Regions from separate parts of the Homo sapiens genome. Here region 2 is linked to region 1. The links come from fine-mapping of genetic effects on gene expression. Tissue or cell type: whole blood. Region 1 holds a variant in brackets; the other region holds the start of a gene. All regions are shown on one strand. Distances are between the middles of the regions.

Region 1 (8,104 bases):
TGGGCAACAGACAGAGTAAGACTCCGTCTCAAAAACAAAAAGACAAAACAAAACAAAAAAAACCCCACAAAAAAAAAAGAAGTATCTTGCCCCTTTATATTATCAGAAAAGACTTAACGGCTCATTATAGACAACTTCCTTCTGAAATCAAACCTGGCCTGGGTCGTTATGTTTTCAAAGCAGAAAGCCAGACGAACCTCCAATTTTGACAGTAAAATCATGGGCGACCATGCAGTTTCTCGCTGCCAGGTCCCGATGCACAAACTTCTTGGCGTTCAGGTAGGCCATCCCGTCAGCAATCTCTGCCGCCATCTGAATCATCTCTTGAAGGGTAGGGGGAGGGCGGCCAGGATTATTCTAAAACAGAAACACGGGGTTGGTGTTTCAGCAGCACTGGGATCCGAGGAGGCCAGGAGCGGGTGCTCCACCGAGTACCCCGCTGGGTCCCCCGAAGCAGCTTACCTCAGCCTCTGGCCGCAGAGAACGGAGGTAGCTCTTCAGGTCTCCGTGAGCCATCAGCTCCATCACCACCAGCGTGGGCTGGCCCTTGGACACCACTCCCAGGAGGCGCACCTGCAGAGCAAGCAACCAGGGTTCTTGGAGGAGGGTCCGTGATTCGACTCACCAGGGTTCTCCTCCCTCCCTGGTGTCTATGTCACACACAGCACCCTGTGGCCTGGATGCAGCGTGCTCAGCCCTGGTCTAGGAGAGCAGACATACCTGCCCGGACAGCAGACAGATAGGCCTTTGTATTTTTTTTTTTTTAATTTTCGAGACGGAATCTTGCTGTTACCCAGGCTAGAGTGCAGTGGCGTGATCTCGGCTCACTGCAACCTTTGCCTCCCGGGTTCAAGCAATTCTCCTGCCTCAGTCTCCCGAGTAGCTGGGGTTACAGGTGCCCGCCTCCACACCCGGCTAATTTTTGTATTTTTAGTAGAGACAGGATTTCTCCATGTTGGTCAGGCTGGTCTTGAACTCCTGACCTCTGGTGATCCGCCTGCCTCAGCCTCCCAAAGTGCTGGGATTATAGCCACTGCACCCAGCCAGGCCTTTGTATTTTAATCATTCCCTCTGCCTGGCTCTCTGTTCCCTGCCACATCCACAGGGCCCAGCTCCTCATGTCCTCTAAGTCTTTGCTCAAATACACCCCTGTCCAACCCTCCTTTCCTCCCTTTCTTCATGTTTCCATAGCATTTGCTCCTAATGTATAAAGGGTTTGGAGTCAGCTGGGGGTGGTGGCTTATGCCTGTAATCCCAGCACTTTGGGAGGCTGAGGCCGGTGGATCACCTGAATTCAGGAGTTCGAGACCAGCCTGGCCAACATGGCGAAACCCCATCTCTACTAAAAATACAAAAATTAGCTGGGTGTGGTGGTGGGCTCCTGTTATCCCAGCTACTCAGGAGGCCGCGGCAGGAGAATTGCTTGAACCTGGGAGGCAGAGGTTGCAGTGAGCCGAGATTGTGCCACTGCACTCCACTCTGGGCGACAGAGAGAGACTCTGTCTTAAAAATATATAAAAATAGGCTGGGCGTGGTGGCTCACGCCTGTAATCCCAGCACTTTGGGAGGCCAAGGCAGGCGGATCATGAGGTCAGGAGATCGAGACCATCCTGGCTAACACAGTGAAACCCCGTCTCTACTGAAAATACAAAAAAATTAGCCAGGCACTGGGCGTGGTGGCTCACGCCTGTAATCCCAGCACTTTGGGAGGCCAAGGCGGGTGGATCACGAGGTCAGGAGTTCAAGACCAGCCTGGCCAGCATGGTGAAACCCCGTCTCTAATAAAAAAAAGTATAAAAAGCATTAGCTGGGCGTGGTGGCAGGCACCTGCAGTCCCAGCTACTCGGGAGGCTGAGGCAGGATAATTGCTTGAATCCAGCAGGCAGAGGTTGCAGTGAGCTGAGATCATGCCACTGCACTCCAGCCTGGGTGACAGAGTGAGACTCCATCTCAAAAAAAAAAAAAAAAAACAATCAGCCAGGCGTGGTAGCAGGCGCCTGTAGTCCCAGCTACTCGGGAGGCTGAGGCAGGAGAATAGTGTGAATCCAGGAGGTGGAGCTTGCAGTGAGCTGAGATTGTGCCACTGCACTCCAGCCTGCACAACAAAGCGAGACTCCGTTTCAGGAAAAAAAAAAAAAAAAAAAAAAAAAAAAAAAAAAAAAAAAAAAAAAAATATATATATATATATATATATATATATATATATATATATATATATATATGAAATAAAATAAAAATAAAGGTTTTGGAGTCTGTCTCCGCCTGCTGTTTTGGAAGCTCTACAGGGGCAGGTATCCACTGTATCACAGGGACAAGAGCAGGGCTTTAAATGCCCCATAAATATGTGTGGCAAGGATGAAAGCACATAGGACTCAAAGAGGAACAAAGGAGCAGAAAGGCAGGAAGAGTTGGTGCTGCCTTCAAAGGAGAGTAGGAACGAGGGCAGGTGGTATCAGGTGGACCTCTATGTGGTCCTGGGTTACAAAGGTGCCAGGAAAAAGCAAGAAATGGAAGAGTCTAAAAAGCAATGGAAGATTGTGGAAAATGATGGAAGATTCCGGAAAGTGGTGGAAGATTCCAGAAAATGATGGAAGATTCCAGAAAGTGATGAAAGATTCTGGAAAGCAATGAAACATTCCAGAAAGTGATGAGACAGTGATAGAGTCTGGTTCCAGGCGAAGTGGGAGAGGATGGGATTTGAGAAGGGAATGATCCCTCCTCACACCTCTAGGATGGGAAGCTTAGTGGAGTGAGGGGTGGGTAGGAGGTTACACCCTGTGTCCTCTGTCGCTCTGTGCAGGAGGAGGAGGCAGAGAAAGGGAAGGGTCAGGAAAGCCAGCCCATGTCCCACCCCCACTGGACTCACCACGTGATGGCAGGTGAAGCCCTTCATGACCGAGGCCTCATTGAGGAACTCAATCCGCTCTCGGAGACTGGCTGACTCGTTGACCGTCTTCACCGCCACGCGGGTCTCTGCCTCACCCTTGATGATGTCCCTGGCATTGCCCTCATACACCATGCCGAAGGAGCCCTGCCCCAGCTCTCGAAGGAGGGTGATCTTCTCTCGAGACACCTCCCACTCGTCCGGCAC[G/A]TACACAGAGCATGGAAACACTACTTCTTACTTATCTACACAGCATCCTTGGAGGATCCCTTGGGGGTCTGCAGCCACCTTCCACCCAAGCCCTCACCCAAACCCCCTCGAAAACACTCATGAAATGAGTTCTGTGATCCAGGACCCATGCCGGGCACTGGGCATATGGCCGAGAACAGGACAGGCATCTGCACCCATGGAGAGGGCATGGCAGAGACTCAAGGAAGGAGCCACAACTGGTCCAAGATCCTGGCCAATATGTCCTGAGGCAAACCTGCATCCCCATCCTTCTTGTCTGATTTCAGACCCTTGCTATGGAATGATGCTACTTCCCACCTGAGACTACTGTTTCTGCAAAGTGCCAAGGGGATGGAAGACAGGTTGTAATAGGTTGGGGAAAAAAAAAGCCAGGATACTTGGAGCTCTTCCCATGAAAAGGTGGAGTCTATCTCACCACCCCTTGGCCCTGGGCATGGCCTTGTGAGTTATTTTGGTCAATGGGAATCAACAAGAATTGTCCAAGCAGAGATTTGGAATGGACTGTTGCCCTGGAGCTTGCCCTGGAGCTTTCTACTAGGAACCAACAGAGGACCATGGAATGAAGCCTGAGCCAGCCTGCTGGAGCCTAAGAGGCTAGATGGACAGAGTGAGGCTCAGCCTCCCCCAGCTTAGGGCCCCCACCTTGGGACCACCCAGCCTACTGACCACCAGACATGTGAGTGAAATCATCTAAGACTACCGAGTGCTAGCTGACACACCAGCAAAATGTAGCTACATGGGTGAAGCCAGGCAAGACCAGAAGAACTGCCCAGCTGAGCCCAGCCCAAGTGGTCGACCCTGCCCAAGGGTCCCAGACCGGCTAGATGAGCCCATTCAGGCAGGTGCCAAATACCATGTGTCCAGATGCACACAGTAATGAGGTTTCTGCAGCAAGGGCAGTTTGGCAAGCTCAAATGAATAAGAGGGCTTTTCTTGGCCTCCCTGGGGAACCCATCCTTCACTCTCACTCAATGGTGAAGGCAAAGGAAGCTGATGAGTAGGGTTCTGGCCACCCACAGGGAAGGGATGGTACTCACCATCACTGGCACTGAGATACTCAGGGTTTGAAGAAGCGTAAAGCGGTCCCAGCGGCCCATCTGGCTGCCTGGAGGAGGAAAACGAGGCACGTTAGCTTGAGATTCTCATGGGACTCTGCAGAAAGGTGTTTCATACAAGACTCCCCAAGGCAAATGGCAGCCCTTACCAGCAGAATCCCCATAATCCTAGATGCAGTCTAGGGCAGGGATGGGGGACCTTTATGTTTTGAATGGAAGCCCATCAGACAGGTATGTAAGTGCATCAACATGGGAGCACTCATCCCTCCCTGGGTGGTTTTTTTTTTGTTTTGTTTTTGTTTTTGTTTTTACATTTCAGAGTTGCAGTCTTGCTCTGTTGTGGCTGGAGGGCAGTGGTATAATCATAGCTCACTGCAGTCTTAACCTTCTGGGCTCCAGAGATCCTCCCACTTCAGCTTTCTGAATAGCTGGGAATACAGGTGCTCACCACCACACCTGGCTAATTTGTAAAATTTCATATAGACAGGGTCTCACTATGTTGCCCAGGCTGGTCTTGAACTCTTGGTCTCAAGTGATCCTCCTGCCTCATCCTCCCGAGCGGCTGGGACTACAGATATGCACGACCATGCAGGGCTCTGGCTGGCTTTTTAAATAATTTATGGCCATCCATGTAACACTTAAAAGCCACTCACCCAGTACTGTTCTAGAGCGAGCTCATCCCGACTGATGAGAAACAATTATTAAATTTTCAGGAAACTAGTGAGCCAGTTGTTAAATACAAGCATCATTAAAGATTAAATTGTACAATGCCTTCCAAATAGAACAAAAAATATAAATTATAGAGGCTTACAATTAAATAAATTATCCTAAAAGCAAAGACAATACATGTTCAAAACTCATCACTTCCTAACTCTCATACTACATTTAAATATGATCAATGCAGTTGAGGTTATTTACATTATATCATTTATACACCATATTGTATCCATAGGGTGGATTCAATGGGGAGCTATTATGTATCTCTTTCTAACACTGCACTCAGTAATATTATGTCTACAGCTTGAATTTAGACATCCTGGGAATATTTACATTACAGAAACTGGCAAATGCTATAACTCAGGACTGGATTTGTTGTTCTGTTGTTTGTCCAGGCTTGAGAAAGTGATGAGAAAAATATTTTTTTGTTTTGTTTTGTTTTTGAGACAAAGTCTCACTCTGTTGCCCAGGCTGGAGTGCAATGGTGCGATCTCGGCTCACTGCAACCTCTGCCTCCTGGGTTCAAGCGATTCTCCTGCCTCAGCCTCCTGAGAAGCTGGGATTACAGGCGCACATCACCACACCTTGCTAATTTTTGTATTTTTAGTAGAGACGGGGTTTCACCATGTTGGTCAGGCTGGTCTCGAACTCCTGACCTCATGATCCGCCCGCCTCGGCCTCCCAAAGTGTTGGGATTACAGGTGTGAGCCACCGTGCCCAGCTGAGAAAAATGTTTAATCATGTAGATTAAACTTAAAAGCGTGTCATGTCTGCAACTGTGATGTTGCATGTGGCACAAAATGTTCTTCTGATATTTAAAAATTACCATCTGACTCAGCAAAGACGTCACTCATATCACTGATGAACATATATGTCTTATTTCAGTTTTGTCCTACTTTTTTTTTTTTTCCCGAGACGGAGTCTCCCTCTGTCGCCCAGGCTAGAATGCAATGGTGCGATTTCAGCTCACTGCAACCTCCGCCACCAGGGTTCAGTAATTCTCCTGCCTCAGCCTCCTGAGTAGCTGGGATTACAGGCGCCCACCACCATGCCCGGTTAATTTTTTAGTATTTTTAGTAGAGACGAGGTTTCACCATGTTGGCCAGGCTGGTCTCAAACTCCTGACCTCAGGTGATTCACCCGCCTTGGCCTCCCAAAGTGCTAGCATTACAGGTGTGAGCCACTGTGCCCAGTCAAGTCCTACTCCTTAATGTAAATTTTGAAAAATTAATCAACATTCACATTGGAGCTTTACTTGTTTATCAATTGCAATAATAGGTTAGCTTCGGATATAAAGGTTTGGGCAAAAAAAAAAATCAATAAAAACATTCTGTGAGAATCAACTGTCTAGAGGGAATTTACAATAAAGAGTTGTGTATATCATATTATGACAATTATCTGTAAATTGCATGTTACACATCCTATATCAGCAAAATTCATAATAAACTTAAATATGCCTATACCTATATCAAGGCATGTTTTCCCCCAGAGAACCAACTGTTCCCAGCACACCACTGAACTCACTGAACTCACCTCTTTCTCAGGAATAGATAAATACTTCCAATCACAACACTGAAGAGAAAGACAAAGATGAGGGGGCCGATGATAATTTTTGCAATATTTGACGGGACGTCTACTGAAATAGAATAAGAAAATATATGTTTCATATCAATGTGTTTCCAACAAAGTTCACATCAAAAATCACATCCACTCCTGGAATGGGTGGGCCACCCTGTTCCTTCCCTCCCTTGTCCATAAACCTCTCTGCTGCTCTTCCACATCCTGATTTTCCAGCAGTCCCGAAACAGTCCCGTAGGTGCAGTGGGACCAGGCAGTGGGCTCAGAGGTCAGTATTCTGGAAGCACACTCTTCCCCACCCCTGCCCCAAATCACTGCTCATTTCCATCCCTCCCACATCTCAGGCAGTGGATGCAGGACCCTTTTCTGTCAGTTTAATGCTCTGCTGTTGCCCCTCTGAAATGCTTATTCATTTTATTTTAATTTTTATTTATTTACTTATTTTTGTGACAGAGTCTTGCTCTGACACCCAGGCTAGAGTTCAGTGGCACGATCTCGGCTCACTGGAACCTCCTCCTTTCGGGTTCAAGTGATTCTCCTGCCTCAGCCTCCCAAGTAGCTGGGACTACAGGCATGCACCACCACACCCGGCTAATTTTTGTATTTTTAATAGAGACAGGGTTTCACCTTGCTGGCCAGGCTGGCCTCAAACTCCTGACCTCAGGTGATCCTCCCGCCTCAGCCTCCGAAAGTACTGGGATGACAGGCGTGAGCCAACGTGCCCGGCCAAATTCTTAATAATTTTAAAGCAAGGAGTTCTGCATTTTCATTGTTCACTGGGTCTTGCAAATTACATAGCTAGTCCCGATCCCAGCATGACTTTTGACAGATGTAAACTTCTTTTAATTTTTATTTTTTAGAGACAGGGTCTTACTCTGTCACCCAGGCTGGAGTACAGTGGCACAATCACAGTTCACCGCAACCTCAAATTCCTGGGCCCAAGTGATCCCCCTGTCTCAGCCTCCCAAGTACCTGGGATTACAAGCATGCACCACCATAGCTGGCTAATTTTTGTATTTTTTTGTGGAGACAGAGTCTCGCTATGTTGCTCAGGCTGGTCTCTAATGCCTGTCCTCAAGCAATCCTGTTGCCTCAGCCTCCCAAAGTTCTGGGATTACAGGTGTGAGCCACCTCATCTAGCCAAAAAACTCTAGTAACAAAGATGGAGACACTAGCAACAGGTGCCAGGCACTTAACATTTGTGTCATTAAAATGTCCCTCCACCTCCTGAAGTGGTTCTGTTATTATCTCCATGTACAGATGAGGAAGTGCAGGATTGCCAGATAAAGAAAATGTGATACATACACACCATGGAATACTACACAGCCATGAAAAAGAATGAGATCATGTTCTTTGCAGCAACATGAATGGAGCTGGAGGTGATTATCCTAACTGAATTAACACAGGGACAGAAAACCAACTACCTCATGTTCTCACCCATAAGTGAGAGTGAGACACTGACCACACATGGACAGAAAGAAGTGAACAGTAGACACCGGGACTGCTATGGTTTGGATCTGTGTCCCCACCCAAAGCTCTTGTTGAAATGTAATCCCCAATGTTGGAGGAGTGGCCGGGTGGGAGGTGATTGGATCATGGAGGCGGTTTCTAATGGGTTAGCAAC
Region 2 (8,091 bases), 170 kb after region 1:
CGTGTGCCTGTGGTCCCAGCTACTACGGAGGCTAAAATAGGAGGATGGCTTGCGTCCAGGAGGTCGAGGCTGCAGTGAGCCATCATTGCCCAACTGCACTCCAGCCTAAGCAACAGAGCAAGACCTCATCTCAAAAAATAATAGATAGCTAGAGAGATAGATACAAAAATCACACTGATTTTCCTCCACCCTTCATCCCAATCAAAATGCCATATTGGGCCCGGAGTGATGGCTCACACCTATAATCCCAGGTCTTTGGAAGGCCGAGGCAGGCAGATCACTTGAGGTCAGAAGTTTGAGACCAGCCTAACCAATATGGCGAAATCCCATCTCTACTAAAAATACAAAAATTAGCCAAGGGTGGTGATACACGACTGTAATCCCAGCTACTCAGGAGGCTGAGGCAGGAGATGCACTTGAACCTGAAAGGCGGAGGTCGCAAAGATCGTGTCACTGCACTCCAGCCCGGGTGACAGAGTGACACCCTGTCTCAAAAAAAAAAAAGAAAAAAAAAAAGGCCAGGTACGGTGGCTCACTCCTGTAATCCCAACACTTTGGGAGGCCGAGGCGGGTGGATCACAAGATCAGGAGGTCGAGACCATCCTGGCTAACACAGCAAAGCCCTGTCTCTACTAAAAATACAAAAAATAAGCCGGTGTTGTGGAACACGCCTGTAATCCCAGCTACTGGGGAGGCTGAGGCAGGAGAATCCCTTGAACCTGGGAGGTGGAGGTTGCAGTGAGCTGAGATCGTGCCACTGCACTCCAGCCTGGGTGACAGAGCAAGACTCCGTCTCAAAAAAAAAAAAGCCATATTGGTTGACATTAGAGATTAATGATCTGAAAAGTTCTTTGCCCCTCCCCAAGCCTTCAAGAGGCATCACAGCCCATTTATTTGACAGGATTTTGTTCACCATCACCCCAATCGTGGGGGGTACGGAGGCTCGGACTCAAAAGAACAAAGATTTGTTAAGAAACCATTGCTCTGCAGCCACACTAGCTAGATTGCAATCCCAGCCCTGCTGCCTGCTGGCCTCAAGCGAAGTTTTCTCACTTGTGAAAAGGGAAGATTAAACCGCACCTCGTGGGGTTTTGCCGTGAGGATTAACTGAGATTATATATGCAAAGCGCATAGAACAGCACCTGCTGAGAGCTTGCTCTTCTAATTCTTAGGAAGGTATTATGCAGAGAATAAGGAACTCCTTAAGATGATAAAGGAGCCCAGTACACCCAGGAACTCCACCACTTGTGCCCCACTGCAGAACAAATATTTACTGAACACCTACTATGTGCCAGGCATCGTTCTGGGCTCTAGAAATGCAACGGTGAACAACAACAAACCATAAACCCCTGCCCATATGGAAGCCATAAATGTGCAAAGAAATGGTAAATCCATTTACTGACCCTGAAAGCCCAGGCACAGATCCACAATTAATTACCAAAGCTACAAGGAACAGAAGAACAGGGAACCACACACACGCACACATAGAATCTGGCATAGTTCGAAACCACTCATCTTGGATTTTCTTTTTATTTATTTATTTATTTTTGAGACAGAGTCTCGCTCTGTCGCCCAGTGGCACGATCTTGGCTCACTGCAAGCTCCGCCTCCCGGGTTTACGCCATTCTCCTGCCTCAGCCTCCGGAATAGCTGGGACTACAGGCGCCCGCCACCACGCCCGGCTAATTTTTTCTATTTTTCAGTAGAGACAGGGTTTTACCGTGTTAGCCAGGATGGTCGTGATCTCCTGAACTGGTGATCCACCCGCCTCGGCCTCCCAAAGTGCTGGGATTACAAGCGTGAGCCACCACGCCCCGCCTTTTTTTTTATTTTTTTGAGACAAAGTCTCGCTCTTTGGCCAGGCTGGAGTGCAGTGGTGCCATCTGAGCTCACAGCAACCTCCTCCTCCCGGGTTCAAGCAATTGTCCCGCCTCAGCCTCCCAAGTAGCTGGGACTACAGGCGAACGCCACCAAACCCAGGTAATTTTTGTATTTTGAGCAGAGAAGGGAGTTTCACCATGTTGGCCAGGATGGTCTCCATCTCCTGACCTCGTGATCCGCCCGCCTCAGCCTCCCAAAATGCTGAGATTACAGGCTTGAGCCACCGCAGCTGGCCAGATTTTCTTAACAAGAACTCCAACTAACCGCCACCCTTCATTGAGCACCTACTGTCTCCCAGGCACCTGGGGGCGGGGCTGGGGGGGGGTGGGCCCGGGGCTTTTAGACATTATGTGATTGACAGAGTCGACTCAGCAAACCCGGTTGGTCCACTCTAGCACCTGATTTTACATGCACCCGTTTCCCCATCAATACATTTAAGAGCTTCAATTCCTTCCCTCCCTGACCCCTTCCTCATCACGACTGATTTCCTTTTATGGAGAAATCTGAAACAGTAACCCAACAGATATTTTTAAAGCAGGGCCTCAGACCCCACAGTGGGAAACCCAGGCTATATTCCTTAAATGATTGCGCCATCTTCATCTTACAACCCCAAAGGTGCCTATTGTCAAGCCCAAGGAAGATGCTGCCCACACGTGGGAGAGGGGCCCATGGGGTCAGGGGGAACGAAAGGCTCACTCAAGGTCAAAGGCTCCTTCATGAAGCGCAGGGCTGAGGGGAGAGGAGGGGTCAAGGAGACAGCAGACAAGGGACAGTAGTCCAGATTCTTGGGCAGAACGGGACACACAGAGGCTCAAGTCCTGGCTCTGGCACTGACTTTAGGGCAAGGGAGTTATGCGTCCTACATGAGCCTCAGTTTACTCCTCTGTGAAATGGGTGCATAACTGTATCTGCCTCCGGGGGCCACTGTGACAGTCCAGAGAGATAAGATAGACTAGGCTGTGGCGTGCGGTGATACCAATTACAATAAATAGGGTAAAAAACCGCCACTACTTCTGCTACAATTGCTGCTGTTGCTAAGGCTTTAGAATTTGCCTCCGGACATCTGGAAACAGAACCCAAAAGGGTAAACATGGACCTAGAGTCCGGGGTGGCCACGGGCCTAGATCCAAGGTAGTTGGGTAGAGGGGGGCTCTGCAGTCCCTGACCCCAGGCAGCGTCACCCACCGGTGAGGCACTCAGGGCGCTTGGCTCTACCTACACCATATGCGCTCGGGGGACTTGGCTGTTCGGGGCTGTCCAGACCCAGTGACCCCACTTCCCGGCCGCGACCCAAAGATGACGCGTGTCGTGTCTCCGGAGCGACTTGGGCTCGGAGGGGCCGGGGCACGGGTCGGAGGCGCGCTCCAGAGAGGAGCCCGCGGCGGGGCGGGCACCGGGGCAAGGTTCCTCGGGCTCAGGTCGGGCACGCAGGGCGCGGAGGCGCGAGCCCGGGCGGGCAAAGGCCAAGGTCAGAGGCTTCCCGCTCCCCCTACGCGATGCAGGAGCTACCGTCCTGGCCACCGCCCCCCGCCCCTGGGGAGGGTTCTCAGTCCACAAGCGGGGGCTCGATTTTGGCTTGGGTGGGGTCCTCTCCCCATCGCGGCGCTCCCCGCCCACGCCCGCGCCCCCAGACTCACCCTCTCCGGGGTACAGGTGGCCCGCGGCGCCCAGTAGCAGCGCGGCCACCGCCACCAGCAGCGGCGCGGCCGCCGCCCCCCGCCGGCCCCCGGTGGCCATGGCTGCGGGAGCGCGGGGTCTCCTCGGATCAGAGCGCGCGGCGCTGGCCCGCGGGGGTCATGCTCCGAGGCGGCCACCCAAGAGGCGCTGGGGGCCGCGCGTCCTTCTCTTCCACGCCCGCGACCCGCGGGCCGCAGCCCCCCTGCCGGGGAGGGCCCAGAGGCAGCCCCGGGAAGGGCGCGCGCGGCTTCGCCAGCTACAAATACTGAGCGGAGGCCCTTGCGGTGGTGGCCCCGACCCCCCGGCCGCTGCGGCCCGGGCCCCGTCCCAGGATCTCGGGGCCCGGAGCTCCGCGCTGCGCCCGGGACTGTCTCTCGGCTCTCGGCCCCGCGCGCTCTGGGTCGCGATCTGCGGGCTCCGGGACAGAGGGACGCGCGGACCGACGGACTAGCTGACTGGCGGGCGGGCACCTGGGCTGGCGGGTGGCGGGCGGGCGGCGGGAGAGAGGGCTGCTCGGGCCCGTAAACAACGCGGCCCGTCAGCTGGGCCCCGTGCGGGCCGCGGGAAAAGGCGGCGCGGATCTGGCCTAGGAAGGGACTCTGCGCCCGGGAGAGGCCCAGGAGAGGGAGGGAAAGCTTGCAGGGGAGGGAGGTGCCGCCCGGCCCCGCCCCGCCCCGCCCGCCTCCCCGCCTCCCTGTGCCGGGCCCCGCGCGGGAGGCCCTGGGCGCGCCGGGACCGAGGGCGCGCCCCAGATCCGCGCGCCCTACAGCCCCGAGTCTCCTCCAGTTTCAGACCCCCGGAGGCGCCCCACAGGCCCGACGCAGCGGCACAGATCCTTTCTCTACCATTTTGCTATTTTGTTCATAGTGGGCTTTGGAGGATTCCTGTTGATTTTTTAAAAAATACTGCATTAAAATGTTTATTTTGGTGACTCGAGGTGGTTTTGGTTTCTTTCTTTTTTTTTTTTTTTCACTCCCTTAAATTTTGCACCCCAGGCGAGTAGTGTCTCACTCGCCTTTCCTCAGTCCGGGCCTGGCCAGCGACACTCGTCCCAGAGCGCGTGGGCGCCCCCAGATGTCCCGCCCGCGAGTGCGCCCCGGCCCAGGGGCGAGACCCAAGCCAGGCCCCTGGGGACAGCCACGTGCCCGCGTGCCCAGTGCGCTCCCTGTGTTCAAGTTGGAGAAATGACACCTGGAAAAATGTGCAGACGCTTCTGAAAGGGCAAAGACGACGCCAAAGAAGACGCCGGAGACCTCGAATAGGGCGCAGGTGGACATCTCTGATTTTCAGCAGACCAGCCTGTATGTGTCTGAAGTCTAGCAACGACATTCACCAACAAGGCGGGACAGCGGTTCCACCTACCTTACTGCAGGAGAGGAAGGGGCTTTCAGTATAGGAAAGCCAGAACTCAATGGGAGGAGGGTTCCTCCACCCCTCACTCCTGTGTGGTCTTGGACCAGGGACTTTTCTGTCTCTGGGCCAGTTTCACTTGTGTAATGGGTTTAATAATACCTGCATGCCAGTTCTGGGGAGGTACCCGGGAAAGAAAACTTAAGAAAGCGCCCAGCACAACCCTAGACCCAAGGCATTCATTCTTCTTTCATTCAATAAACAGTTTGCTAGGAGCTGGACCCACTGTTCATGCAACAGGCCAAACCTATTCCTGCCTCTGGGCCTTTGCCCCAGCATTTCCCTTGCCCGTAACACTCCAGGATGGCTTCATCTCTGAAGTGCCATCCCTAACCATATTTTTGCAAATCCTCCCCCCAGTTCCGTTTCCTTCTCTCTCTCTCTCTCTCTGTTTTTTTTTTTTTTTTTTTTTTTTTTTTTTTTTTTTTTTTTTTAGATGGAGTTTTTCTCTGTTGCCCAGGCTGGAGTGCAATGGCCAGATCTCAGTTCACTGCAACATCACCTGCCTGGGTTCAAGTGATTCTCCTGCCTCAACCTCCCAAGTAACTTGGATTACAGGCATGCGCCAGCACACCCAGCTAATTTTCTGTATTTTTAGTAGAGACAGGATTTCACCATGTTGGCCTGGCCGGTCTCAAACTCCTGACCTCAGGTGATCCACCGGCCTTGGCCTCCCAAAGTGCTGGGATTACAGGCCTGAGCCACTGCGCCTGGCCCCTTCTCTCTCATTTTCATAGCATGTTTACCCCACTACCTGCAATTGTTTGTTTTTTTTTTTTCTTTTCTTTCTTTTTTTTTCCTTTTGACAGAATCTTGCTGTCACCCAGGCAGGAATGCAGTGGTGCAATCCTAGCTTACTGCAGCCTTGAACTCCTGGCCTCAAGCAATCCTCCTGCCTTGGCCTCCCAAGGTGCTAGGATTACAGGCATGCGCCACCATGATTGGCCTTGAAATTCTTATTCGTTTTCTGTGTCTTCTCCCCTTCCCGTGAAGGCGGAAATCTTTTCGGTCTTGTTTCACTGCTTAAACCCAGTGCCTGACAAATCTGTTGCTTAATAAATATTTGTTGAGTGGGAGAATCAACAAGCAATAAGTAATAGGGGATTTTTCAGTGAGCAAAATAAACATGACCCATTTCCTTATGGAGTTCACAACTGAGCCAGGGAGAGAGCCCTTAAAATAATTGAGTGTGTAATGAGCTGAGGGAAATGGGAGGTGCATAGGGAGGGGTTTGCTGAGGACATGGGGTTTTTTGTTTGTTTGTTTTTTGATGGATCTTACTCTGTTGCCCAGGCTGGAGTGCAGTGGCACGATCTTGGCTCACTGCAACCTCCGCCTCCCAGGTTCAAGCAATTCTCCTGCCTCAGCCTCCAGAGTAGCTGGGATTACAGGTGCATGCCACCACGCCTGCCTAATTTTTGTATTTTTAGTAGAGGCAGGGTTTCACCATATTGGACAGGCTGGTCTTGAACTCCTGACCTCAAGAGATCTGCCTGTCTCGGTCTCCCTAATTGCTGGGATTACAGACGCGTGAGCCACTGCACCTGACTGAGGATGTGATTTTGAGCTTAAGTCTGAAAATGAAGAGGAGCCATCCTAGGGAAGCCATAGGGATGTGTTTCAGGTGGGGGAAGGCATGAGCAAAGGCCCAGAGGAGAGTGGGCAAGGCATTCTTGCAACTGAACCAGGCATTCACTGTAGCTGCAGAAAAGAAAGAGGAGAAAGTGAAGCCATGGGTGAGAACTGCAGTGGGCCCTTGAACATGAGTTTGAACCGTGCACATCTTTTTTTTTTTTTTTTTTGAGGCAGAGTCTCGCTCTGTCACCCTGGCTGGAGTGCAGTGGAGCAATCTCAGCTCACTGCAATCTCCACCTCCAGGGTTCAAGCTATTCTCCTGCCTCAGCTTCCCAAGTATCTGGGACTACAGGCACACGCCACCTCACCCGGTTAATTTTTGTATTTTTAGTACAGACGGGATTTTACCATGTTGGCCAGGCTGGTATCGAACTCCTGACCTCAGCTGATCTGATCAGCCTCCCAAAGTGAGGTCATCTTTAAACAGAATGTTTTTCAATAAATATATTGGAAACATTTTTAGAGATTTGCAATAGTTTGAAAAGACTTGCAGATGAACTTGGTAGCCAAGAAATATTAAAAAAAAATTAGGTATGTCATGAATGCATAAAATATATGTAGATACTAGTCTGTTTTATTATTTTTGTTATTATTTTCTTTTAGAGACAGGGTCTTGCTCTGTTGCCCAGGCTGGAGAGCAGTGGCCCAATCATGGCTCACTGTAACCTCCAACTCCTGGGTTCAAGCGATCTTCCTGGCAAGCACCAACACGCCCGGCTAATTTTTTTACTTTTTATAGAGACGAGGTCTCACCATGTTGCCCAGGCTGGTCTCTAACTCCTGAACTCAAGTGATCCTCCTGCCTCTACCTCCCACAGTGCCGAGATTACAGGTATAAGCCACCATGTCCAGCCCTATTTTATAATTTGCTAACATAAAATATACACAAATCTGTTACAAAAAGTTAAAATGTATTAAAACGTACACACACACTTACAAACCATACATGGTGTTATTCCAAGTCAAGAGAAATGTAAATAAATGTAAAGATGCAGCATTCAATCATAACTGCATAAAATTAACTATAGAATATATTGTGTTATTGTAACAATTTCATAGCCACCTCCTGTTGCTACTGGAGTGAGTGCAAGTGTTGCAAGTATCCGCTTTAAATGCCATGTTACATTAATTATCTCCCTGTGGGCAGTTCACCTCTCCAGGAATTTGTGCCCCGGTAAAAAGGGATCTCTTGGCGGTTCCCGCGTATTTTTCACTGTGTTTAGTGCAATACCGCAAACATTGAATAACATCCTGAGACCCATGTAAAGTGCCACTAGTGATGCTGGAAATGCTCCCGAGAAGCAGAGAAAAGTCAGGACAGGACAAGAAAAAGTTGAATTGCTTGCTACGTAACATAAATGGAGCTCTACAGCTGCGGTTGTCTGCTTCAGACAGACAATTCATCTTGTAAACAAATTTATGGCATTGATAAATATTGTAGCGTTCTGTAACTGTAAATGTATTTTCTCTTCCTTGTGATTTTCTTTT

Evidence for each region. PIP is the estimated chance that this variant, and not a neighbour inherited with it, causes the effect.
Region 2: INSR starts here. The variant in region 1 is fine-mapped to the expression of INSR in whole blood (TOPMed, PIP above 0.99). The same link has a PIP of 0.9 or more in cerebellar hemisphere, cerebellum, cerebral cortex, lung, nasal epithelium and subcutaneous fat.

The regions. Positions count from the first base shown.
Region 1 is chr19:7,122,417-7,130,520 of GRCh38, forward strand. It overlaps INSR (insulin receptor), which reads right to left. Exons shown (of 22, transcript NM_000208.4): 15 at 6,436-6,538; 16 at 4,168-4,235; 17 at 2,867-3,111; 18 at 463-573; 19 at 198-357. Among named protein-coding and RNA genes, the nearest start is that of ZNF557, 57 kb to the left of the region's middle. The variant G/A (reference allele first, on the strand shown) is at 3,092.
Region 2 is chr19:7,290,274-7,298,364 of GRCh38, forward strand. INSR (insulin receptor) reads right to left here and starts at 4,141. Exons shown (of 22, transcript NM_000208.4): 1 at 3,519-4,141. The coding sequence starts at 3,618. RefSeq lists an enhancer at 2,583-3,341 and silencers at 3,323-3,382, 3,433-3,572, 3,713-3,992, 4,013-4,402, 4,543-4,722.